3 linked regions of the Homo sapiens genome follow. Each later gene encodes a partner of the first gene's protein in a complex. Each region holds a gene or a part of one and is shown on either strand. Other genes may lie near its edges.

What was found.
Region 2: the proteins of UPF3B (region 1) and UPF2 are in contact, whole or in part, in a crystal structure (PDB 7NWU), measured with the Homo sapiens proteins. Residues at the interface, in NP_542199.1 of Homo sapiens: Lys52, Arg56, Arg57, Tyr79, Glu81, Phe83, Asn85, Asp86, Thr87, Ser88, Leu89, Tyr90, His92, Tyr94, Arg96, Tyr98, Ile130, Glu132, Pro135, Phe136, Lys138, Ala139, Ala140, Arg147, Asp148, Lys150, Val151, Gly152, Thr153, Ile154; in NP_056357.1 of Homo sapiens: Lys767, Arg768, Pro769, Pro770, Leu771, Glu773, Tyr774, Lys777, Lys790, Arg793, Gln794, Arg796, Lys797, Leu798, Pro799, Trp800, Gln801, Cys811, Ile814, Asn815, Trp817, Tyr837, Gln838, Glu839, Asp840, Ile843, His844, Val846, Asp847, Gly848.
Region 3: UPF3B (region 1) and EIF4A3 share a complex: the UniProt entries of both Homo sapiens proteins name them as parts of the mRNA splicing-dependent exon junction complex.

The regions. Positions count from the first base shown.
Region 1 is NC_000023.11:119,839,246-119,843,068, reverse strand, and holds part of UPF3B (regulator of nonsense transcripts 3B), read left to right. Parts: intron 1-1,290; coding exon 1,291-1,334; intron 1,335-1,810; coding exon 1,811-1,993; intron 1,994-2,384; coding exon 2,385-2,423; intron 2,424-3,823. UniProt on the Homo sapiens protein: Involved in nonsense-mediated decay (NMD) of mRNAs containing premature stop codons by associating with the nuclear exon junction complex (EJC) and serving as link between the EJC core and NMD machinery.
Region 2 is NC_000010.11:12,040,720-12,044,319, forward strand, and holds the start of UPF2 (regulator of nonsense transcripts 2), read right to left. Parts: upstream 2,091-3,600; 5' UTR 2,036-2,090; intron 1-2,035. UniProt on the Homo sapiens protein: Involved in nonsense-mediated decay (NMD) of mRNAs containing premature stop codons by associating with the nuclear exon junction complex (EJC).
Region 3 is NC_000017.11:80,133,782-80,137,264, forward strand, and holds the end of EIF4A3 (eukaryotic initiation factor 4A-III), read right to left. Parts: intron 2,555-3,483; coding exon 2,447-2,554; intron 2,351-2,446; coding exon 2,223-2,350; intron 1,726-2,222; coding exon 1,709-1,725; 3' UTR 588-1,708; downstream 1-587. UniProt on the Homo sapiens protein: ATP-dependent RNA helicase. Involved in pre-mRNA splicing as component of the spliceosome. Core component of the splicing-dependent multiprotein exon junction complex (EJC) deposited at splice junctions on mRNAs.

The sequences.
Region 1 (3,823 bases):
TAAATTGCAGATGGTAATACCTGCCTCACAGCATTATGAGAATCCATTAAAGTGGGAAAAATTCTTTGACCTATTTAGTTTCACACAAATGTAATATAAATACAAAAAGTTCGATGACTGATAAGGAATGTTTAGACAGTGGTAAGCCTTTGAAGGTCAATTGGTATTTTCTAGTAATAAGTTCATATTCCTAAAAAAATTTTGACTTGAAAATACGAAAAAATGAAATTAGTTACTGCAAAATTGAAAACTACTTGAGGAATTCTAGCTTGGATCTTGGTTCTCAGTAATAGGCTGTCACTACTGTATCAGTAGCTCTAAACATGAGCATAATCTTTGACCCAGGATTTCTACTCAGGAATTTATCCTAAGGAATATGTGGGGTTTTTTTGTTTGTTTGTTTGTTTTTTTTGCTTGCTTGCTCGCTCGCTCTCTCTCTGTGTGTGTGTGTGTGTGTGTGTGTATGTGTGTGTGTGTGTGTGTGTGTGAGAGATGGAGTCTTGCTCTGTCGCCCAGGCTGGAGTGCAGTGTCGCAATCTCGGCTCACTGCAACTTCCGCCTCCTGGGTTCAGGCGATTCTGCCGCAGTCTCCCGAGTAGCTGGAAGTACAGGTGTCCGCCACCACGCCCGGCCAATTTTGTATTTTTAGTAGAGCCGGGGTTTCACCATGTTGGCCAGGCTGATCTCGAACTCCTGACCTCAAGTGATCCGCCTGCCTTGGCCTCTGAAAGTGCTGGGATTACAGGCATGAGCCACTGTGCCCGGCCAGGAATATGTGTTTTAAGATGGCTGTAAGGCCAATAGCTTATTCAGAATGTTGAAAATGAAAAATATTCTTCCAAAACTTGACTTTTATTAATAGATGGATAGTACAAGCCTATTTCTGGTAACTTTCTTAGAATAAATTCCCAGAAGTGGAATTATGGGGTCAAAAGGATTAGATATTTTTAGCCCCTTCCCCCCAACTTCTTCCAGTTGAACAAGTTTACACTCCTATCAGTAAAACAAGAGAATGTCCTAAGTACTTAATTCTCATCAGTTGGGAATGACTCTTTTAATAAATTATTTTGTTGTTTTAATTTGAATTTCTTTACTTTTTAAAAGGTATTTTAATCCCGTATTGTTGAAATCGAATGCTGTAAAACTTCTTTCTGATATTACAATTGTGATCTTTCTGCATAAGGGGTGTACATGTTTTCCCACCTTGGGTGGTTGGCAGGGAATGTCAGAAAATGGAATCGTTTCTAGGGGTTGATAAGTATGATTAATAATCTGTTTACATTTATGTAGCTAAAAAGACAACCCCACTTTTGAGCTTCCTGAAAAACAAGCAGGTAAATCTTTTGTCTTTATAGTTCTCTCAATACTTTAATTTCTTTGCTTTGCATTCTATAAACATTTTAAGAGCATTGGGTTTCTAGAGGAGAAATAGCTGCTTTTTCCACCATTACTCTTTAAGGATTTGCCTTCTTGGTCTCACTCTCTAGCCTGCTCCTTCACTCTGGTTGTTGGACCAGGAGTTCACTCTACAAACGTGGAATGTTCTTAGGTTGTCCCAGAGACACTCATTTGATATTCTGAAAGCCTCTGGAGAGATAGTAAGGCAGCAGTGGAAGAATAATATTAGCAGGTTCTGGTCTTCATTGTCTTTCGTTTTCTGGGTGGAGTGGGGATAACGGTGGTAGAATGCCACTTTGTAGAAAGTAGGAAGGAAAGATTATTCAGTTGGGGCCTACCATGACTTCAGGATTTATTAGGGTTTTGGTGATGATTATTTTATTTGAAGGCTTGTGTTGATGTTTCTTTCTAGAGAATGAGAGAAGAAAAGAGAGAAGAAAGGAGGAGGAGAGAAATAGAAAGAAAAAGACAAAGAGAAGAAGAGAGGAGGAAATGGAAAGAAGAAGAGAAACGAAAAAGGAAAGATATAGAAAAGCTAAAGAAGATAGACAGAATTCCAGAAAGGGACAAATTAAAGGATGAACCAAAGATTAAGGTATAAGAATGTTGAAACTGACTGCATGTTGCTAAAAATTGCACGTATCTACTTCTTTAAATATGCATGCGTCTTGTGTTGGTGTAAATGAATTTTTTGTTTTGTTTTTGTTCTCTTTTGGGGGGAAGTGATCCAATAAAAATCTTTCCTGTAATAGTATTAGTTTTTAAATTTAAGATCATTTAAAAGGATAAAGTAGTATGTTATTTCTTCAGTGCAGATCTGTGCTGTTTTTGTCATTGAAAATGTTGGATTTTTAGACTATTGTCCTCTAAATTCATAGTAAATGAGGGCTTAGGGCTGGCTGGCATGATTTATGGTTTTTTTTCAGCTTTTTCTTCATAATTGATACATGAAGTTACCTCATCTGTTTGTTTTCCACTGTCTTCAGGTACACAGGTTTCTGTTACAAGCTGTGAATCAGAAAAATGTAAGGACCAAGTACATGATACAGAGCATCTAGTATCATGTCACACACACAGGTCTTAGCTAATAAGTCCTTTTGGTGGTGGTGGTGGTAGTGTTACTTGTTGAAAACCCCTTCAGGTTGACTTGAGTCTTCTTAAAAGCTGAGCTATTTTATTATAAATTTCTACTTTAAAAGGAAGCCCAGGTGACTTCCTGATGCTCTGCTGTGTGCCCAGAAGCTTCATTGACCTACAGCCAGAGGACAACCATGCCTATATAGTTCTTTCTCATCTTCTTATATGCTTCTCATAACTGGCTGCCTTGTGGGAGGACTAGGGATAAATACCCTGCAATATGTGCCTTTCCCTCTCACATGACTCCCGTAGTATCTTCCTGCATATATCTGGGAATCTGTGAGCAGCAGATTCGGATTCATGCATTGCATTTGGGAAGAAGAAAACCTGCAGAAAGATCCCAACCTTGCCACTTCCCTTCTAAGGGCATGGCTTGGGCAGCCCTTGTTTCAACATATTTCCTGGGGAAGTACTAGTACCTAGCACTTCAGATAAAGTCAAAGAAAATCTCACAGAGAGGGTGGCAGGGTCTCCTTATTTTATTTCCTGAAAACTCAGCAGTTTATGTAGCAAGGGTTCCCTAAGTCTCTACGGGGCTCATTACTGATGATGAGGGGCTTGGGGGAGGATGGAGTTTCTCATCTTAATTCTTTCCAGCAATCTCTCTGTCTGCTATGCCACAAGTGACTTGACTTGCTATTCCTAACAATCAGCAAGGCAGAAGGTAGAGCCAGCCATGCTAGAGACATTCATTAATGTTCTTATTAGAGTAATGAACACCTTGGTTTCTAATAAGGATGTTCATTGGAGAAATAAGAGCACTTCCAATGAAACCTGCACATGGTATCCTCATTTTACACTGGTGCCTTCTCAGTGTCCATTTTGGACTCACCATTTGCAGTGGCTGTCTGTGTGCCAAAATGCTTTGTGCTTATGTCTTGTGGTGCTTTGCCTTTTGCTTAGTAATTTACATGATGCCTTCACCCTGAGATGAACCTTGTGTGATACCTTCACTCTGAGACTTGAAATTCTTCTATTTTGCCTAAGAATCTCTCTGATTATCCGACACTTGGAGGTATTCTCGAGAGATTCATAGCAGCAATGTAAAAAACAATGGCATTTTTGAACATGCGTAAATATGGCATTAAATACAGAGTTCCTACTCAGTAGAGATGGAACTTCACTATTTGGTTGTATAAGGCCTTTAGATTTTTAAATCAAATGCCAAATAATTCTTGTTATTAATCTCTAATGGCAAGATAATTGTACCATCATAAGTATGTTATTCTCAGGCTCAAGGCAAAATTATTCCTGCAATGGATCTCTCCTTTGGTGACCAAGGTATTTG
Region 2 (3,600 bases), on another chromosome or scaffold:
ATAGCTACAGAAATCAGGCAACAACTTCTCTGAGTCCACTTATTTATCAATAAGATGGATATACTGCTATCTATCTTGTAGAGTTCTTAAAATTCTAGCATAGTAACTAGCATGAGGGAGGCATTAATAAATGTTCTGTCACAAAGAACACTGAGAAGTTCAGCATACAATGAAAGATTTGTAAAGTCAGATAAAGACTATTAGATTTTATCTACTTCTATCCTCAATTTTTACATTCCAAGGATAGCAGCAGAGTCACCTACCCAAGATTATATATACAGCTAGTTTCCGTGGCTGGACCAACACTCACTACCCAGTGCTTTTTCACTACCTACACTAAAACGAATAAAATATACAAACACCGTGATTCACCTCAATACACGTTTGTTTTATGTCGACTTAAAAAACTGAGCACTAAGTGATATTTAATAAAATGCTAAAATTCTTATTTCAATAACTTCAAGCTTTAACAGCCAAACTTTTCATCTAAAGTGTTTCCAAAAGTTTTTCAAGTCCAAATACAATTTTAAATAGGTCCTTTCTCAAGATAGTGAGGAGAAAAAGTCGTGATCTTTTCACTGGAATCCGATTAGCTGTTACAAATTAGTTTGCTGAATACAATTATATTCAGACTACCCTTAAAAGGAAACCATGCTTTAAAACCACCTTCCTAGCTCCCAAAATAGTGTCCTGTCACTTGAACTGTATATTTTATTTGGTATTCTAAATACATTCTGAACTTCCAAAAGAAAGTAAAACTAATTTACTAGAAGTACCAATGGAGTGTATTGGGGGGAAGAGGGCACAAAAGGGGGTGTTTCCCTTTTAAAGACATTCCCTTGCAAAGTACCATATGGATTATGTATGAAATCCCAATCAGAGTGCTCCGAAAACACTCCAGTATGAGAGAATGCGGTTTTACCTTTCAATTCTCTTATTCAAAATGCTGTCAGGACAGAACAGCACAGGAACACTATCTCCCAGTTTCTGACTTTATTTTTTAAAGAACATCCTTAGTATAAAGGACGTATTAAGAACTGTTAGAAATTGTACCAGCTCACAAATGAGGAGACTGACGATGTTAAGGAACACCTAAGAACTATGGAAATGAGATAAAGCGTCAGCGAGGGTTTCACTTTGATCTGATGCATCGTTTCGTGTCGTGTAAGTCCTCTAAGATGAGCAAGAGAGCTGAAGGTCCGATCACCCCAGCGTGGACCCAGCTGGCTCTGCTCTGCCAACCTGGGGACCAAATATCCTGTGATCACTTCCTTAGTCCAACAGTCCTAGCAAGAAGAGAGTGCTTGGCGCCTTGAAGAGGTGAAGGTAAAGTGAAGAATCAACCAGCCTATGTGATTAAAAGGAAGTCAACCAAACAGCCCATGCCCACCATCCCCAGATACACCCCAAGCCCCTTCCCCTACACATACCTCTCCTACAAACCCCTGCTCTGGTGGTGTAGGAACCTCTAAACCCACCACACTTCCCCGACACAACTCCCCTTCCCACAGGTATCCACGGTCACCTTCGCGGACCATCGCTGCCCCAACCCCAACTTCTCGCCCCACACTCCCTCGCCACAGAAGCCTTCCCGGCCGGTCTCCCCACTCCGCAGCCTCCCACACACGCGCCCTCCCCACTTTCTCGCCCTCGCTTCCCTCCCGGCTCTCGAGGAGCTTCCCCCGACCTCCCCTCGCTCTCCTCCACGCCCCCGAACACTTTCGCCCCTCCACCGCGGGCTCCCCGCCTCCAGTCTCGAGGCCCGGCCCAGGCATGTGGGGCAGGCACCTCCTCCACCGCCCCCCAAGCATGGCCCGGCCCGGGGGCTCCCGCGTTGATGGGAGCCTCGGAGACAGGGGGTCTGAGGAGAACGACGCCGGACCCGCGGTCCCTCCACTGCTCGCCGACCCCGGAGAGCTGGAGTGTGGAGTCGCCTCTGGGGTCCCCCAGGGAGTAGGAGTCTAGGCCGGTGCCCCCCAGCCCCATTTCCTCCCGATCGTTGGAGCGGAGGGGAAGGAGGATCCCCGGGACTCACCTCGAGCCTGTTGTCAACATTAGCCCCGGGTTTCCCAGCACCAACTCCAGCGCTCGGGCTCTCCCCTCCCCTCCCCCCACCTATCTCGCAGCCGAGGGCCCGCCTTCCCTCAGCTCCCCCTCCTCCCTCCGCCCGCCAGCCCTCCCGCCCGCCACTCACCAGCGCGGCCGGGCTGAGAGTGGGGGCGGGGCGGAAGGAGGCGAGAGGGAAAAGGCCATCCGCGCGACTGCCCGATTAAAAACAGTCCTGATCGTCTTCCCTGCGGCATGCCGATGCCCTCAGCTTGACTCTGGGGTGGCGGGTCCGGGGCAAAGGCTCATATGAGTGCCATTCACTTAACAGCTCTTTCAAATTCCCCAGTCGATGAGAAGAGCGAATTTTTCAGACTGGCAATACGTAAGGTAGCCACTACCAGCACCTCAAACCAGGGCCCCAGCGGAGGGGTGGAGTGTTCCGAGGACCCGAGGCAGGAAGTGGATTGGTCGCCAGGAAAGGGAAAGCGCCTGAATTGGAGCTGCGCAGGCGCAGGCGCTTCGCGGGGGATGGGGGTGGGAAGCGCGAATGGGGCGGGGCGGAGCTCACGGGAGGCGAGGAAGTGTGGTGGAATAGTGGGAGGGTTACGGAGCGCCATTAAGGACAAGCCCGGCCACGTGATTCTCCTGGGCGTTTCCTGGTGCGAACCTAAGGAAGAGGTCTAAGAAGAGAAAGTTTGATTGGACTAATTCGAGGGGAGACGTTGAAGATTTAGAAAATTGGAAACTGGAGAAACTAAACCATATGGCTGGTTTGGGAGGTGGGAGTCGCTTAGGAATGGGTCTAGTCTTAAGAATGCCCTAAAAGACATCGAAAGTCCTGCGGGGGGATTTCCAGAAGCACTTCTAGGTGTTCGACGTAAAAACCACCCAGGGCGAAGAAGAATCAAGGCTTTTTCCATACACTTCTTAGAAAGTACCTGGTTCTAGCAAGCAAACTTTTAAAAATTACAGTGGCAAGACTTCCCTGAGTTATCAAATCACCCATTTTAAAAAAAAAATGGCTAGCGTCGACATTTCTTCTGAATGCGAACCCAGGCCGACTTTCAAAAATGGGTATCAGTTTATCCACACTGCTTATTTCCTCCTGAATTGCTGAAATGGTGCATCTGGCCTCGAAACAGTACTGGGTTCTGCCAACATGATCCGAGTAGGTGGCTCTGGCTGGTCCGGAGCTAGAGGAACAAGGGTGCGAAACTGGTCTTGACGTTTGCTTGACTTGAGGGGGCCCCACCTGGTGCCCAAGCCCACGTAATGAACTACTACCAACCACAAATACTTGAGGCAAGTCCAGGTTCCCTATGACTCAACCTTTGCCCATTTGCCTCTATTTACTGTTTGCTTCCCCATTTACTCTTAGCACGCAAATTATCCTCTCATACTGAGTGTTGCTGCTTCCTGTATTTAAAAATATATATTTTTTATACACTACACATAGGTCAGTCATTTAAAGGATAGTGAAAGAGAAAGATGAAGGCCGGGCACGGTGGCTCACGCCTGTAATCCCAGCACTTTGGGAAGCCGAGGCGGGCG
Region 3 (3,483 bases), on another chromosome or scaffold:
ATCTGGTTCCTCCTTGCCAGGAACTCATTAAGCTGCCTGGGCCTGTAGTCTCGTGCTCCTCCCGCTCGGCCAGCAGTGCCACCTGGGAGTCTTGTTACCTGCAGGTTCTCACTCAGCAAGCCAGGACAGGGCCCGAGCACTTGCATTTCTAACCAACTCCTGATGATGCAGCTGGTCTACCAGCCACCAGCTGGCTAGCAAGGGTCCAGTCACAGTTTCAGTGAAAGGAAGTTCCATTCATAAACTATAGAATTTCAGATGCCTTCAAGTAGAATCACCTGATGAAATTTAAAAATTATTTCCAAGCTCACCCTAACCCGGAAATAAAGATTATCATCCCAACTAATTTCAGGAAGGGAGGGGCCAGTTTTAACATTTCCATTTCAAATATTAGAGCCCGGTCTGTGGCTCATGTGTGTAATCCCAGCACTTTGAGAGGCTGAGGCGGGAGGACTGCTTGAAGTCAGGAGTTTAAGACCAGCCTGGTCAACAGAGGGAGACCCTGTCTTTAAAAACATTTAAAAAATTAAAAATTGGGCAGCTGTGGTGCTGTGTGCCTATAAAGCTACAGGTAATTACTTTAAATATTTCAACAGATAACTTAAATACTTTAATAATTTAAATATTTAAACAGATAATTATCTGTTTTAGTTTGTCAACATTGTGGTAAGTCATGATCCTGCCACTATACTCCTGCCTGGGCGACAGGGAGATCCTGGGCTCTCAAAAAAACAACAAAAAAAAAAAATTAGAAAAATGAGGCCAGGCATGGTGGCTCACACCTGTTATCCCAGCACTTTGTAAGGCCAAGATGGGAGAATCACTTAAACCCATGAGTGACAGACCAGCCTAGGCCACAAAGTGAGACCCTGTCTCTACAAAAAATTTAAATATTAGCCAGATGTGCTGGCATGCACCTGTAGTCCCAGCTACTCAGGAGGGTGAGGTGAGAGGATCGCTTGAGCCCAGGAGGTTGTGGCTGCAATGAGTTGTGATGGTGCCACTGCTCTTCAGCCTGGGCAGCAGAGCAAAACTCATCAACGATGAAACTCTTTCCAAAAAAAAAGATTAGAAAAGTGAGTGAAATGGGCCGGGTGCAGTGGCTCACGCCTGTAATCCCAGCACTTTGGGAGGCCGAGGTGGGTGGATCACGAGGTCAGGAGATCGAGACCATCTTGGCTAACACGGTGAAACCCCGTCTCTACTGAAAATACAAAAAAATTAGCCTGGCATGGTGGCGGCCGCCTGTACTCCCAGCTACGTGGGAGGCTGAGGTAGGAGAATGGCATGAACCCAGGAAGTGGAGCTTGCGGTGAGAGGAGATCACGCCACTGCGCTCCTGCCTGGGCAACAGAGGGAGACTGTCTCAAAAAAAAAAAAGAAAAAGAAAAGAAAAAAAGAAAAGTGAGTGAAATGACCCAAGACTACACAGTAAGTTACTAGAGAAGGTGGTGGCACCTTAGAAGTATAGAGTTTATGGGAAAAGTTTTAAATTTTTAATGAAAAAGACTTAGAACAATGTATTATTTACATGTAAATAAGAAAAGAGAGCAGAATCCCCATATCCTCTTCAAAGGAAGGGAGACGGCAGGCCATTTATGAGAAGAAAGTCCATATAAACCCCATTAAGTAGAATCTGGATCTAAATACTTCCAAACAGGAGTACACAGCAGGTGAACAGTCTCCCTCATCCCACTGATCTGCTGCTTCAGATAAGATCAGCAACTGAAAGTGAAGAAAGAAACAGATTAAGGAACAACACAAACAAAATGAAAATTTGTTAACGTAAATTTAACTAAAACCTCACAACAGACTTCTCAAAACAAAAAACAGGCCAGACATAGTGGCTCACGCCTGTAATCCCAGCACTTTGGGAGGCTGAGGTGGGCAGATCATTTGAGGCCAGGAGTTCGAGACCAGCCTGGCCAACATGGTGAAACCCCGTCTCTACTAAAAATACAAAAATTAGCTGGCTATGGTGCACGTGTCTGTAATTCCAGCTACTCAGGAGGCTGAGGCAGGAGAATTGCTTGAACCCAGGAGGCAGAGGTTGCAGTGAGCCGAAATCGCGCCACTGCACTCCAGCCTGGGTGACAGAGCGAAACTTCGTCTCAAAAACAAAACAAAAAAACCCACAACAACAAAAAAACAAACTCAGGTGCCCCAAACTAAGAATAGGGAAGTTCCCTCTACAATTACAGTAGAGCTGGACGATTTCCTACCGTTCATCGGCATCTCATCAATCTGAGTGGAATAGTACTGCTCGATATCTCTGAGGATGCGGATGTCGTCATTCTTTACAAAGTTAATGGCCACACCCTTCCGGCCGTATCGACCTGATCTCCCAATTCTTCAGGAATAAAATAATATTACAGTTAGTATATATAACAATCAAGATTTAGTAAATGTGTCACAGAAGTGAAGCCAATGAGAGCTTGCACCTTACCTGTGTATGTACAATTCTCTGTTATTAGGGAGATCATAGTTAATGATGAGGGACACCTGAGGGACATCCAACCCCCTGGCCCAGACATCTGTAGAAATAAGCACTCGGCTGCAAAAAGAAAGAGTGTTTGAGGCGATTAAATTACTCATACAAGTGTAAGACTGGACTTGCTTCCATTGCTAATTTTAAGGAATCCTGGCTGCAGGTCCAAAATATACGAGATTCTCCTCTCTCAACAGTCTGTCTGCAAACGTGAAGCCTCAGGGACAGCACCAGAAACCCCTGTGCAGAGGGGCTGTTGGTGGATTTAGTTACTTCGGTCATGTGCTCCATCAGATTAAAAAAATAGACATCTTTTACTAGACTATCTTTAACTTGTTTAATCGGTCCTAAACCAATAATTGGGAAAAATACTTCACTTTTGCCTAGCAAAAAATTAAAAACGGTAACTTCAGCCGGGCATGGCGGCGGCTTATGCCTGTAATCCCAGCACTGCCAGAGGCTGAGGCAGATGGATCACCTGAGGTCAGGAGTTCGAGACCAGCCTGGCCAACATGGTGAAACCCCATCTCTACTAAAAATGAAAAAAAAAAAAAAAAATTAGCCATTCCAGCTACTCGGGAGGCTGAGACACAGGAGTCACTTGAAATCAGGAGGCAGAGGTTGCAGTGAGCCAAGATTGTGCCACTGCACTCCGGCCTGGGTAACGAAGTGAGACTGTCTCAAAAACAAACAAACAAAAAAAGACACACACAGCACATATGTTAAGCTGACCACAAGGTGGGCAAAGAAGGAAGTCTGAATCAAGTTCAAATGAATGAAACCACCCAATCCACGCTTTCTGACCACTGTGGAATTAAACTAATCGAAACGATGAACAGAAAACCCCCCTACTTACTGGAAAAGAAGACACACGCTTGTAACCAAGGTGACCAACCTGGCTAGTTAAGGCTAGTTATCACCTCAACCTAAGTATTACAGGAGCACAGCGGACCCCTCCTTAACTGGAAGGTTTTCTGCTCACCCAGGGCCTCAGC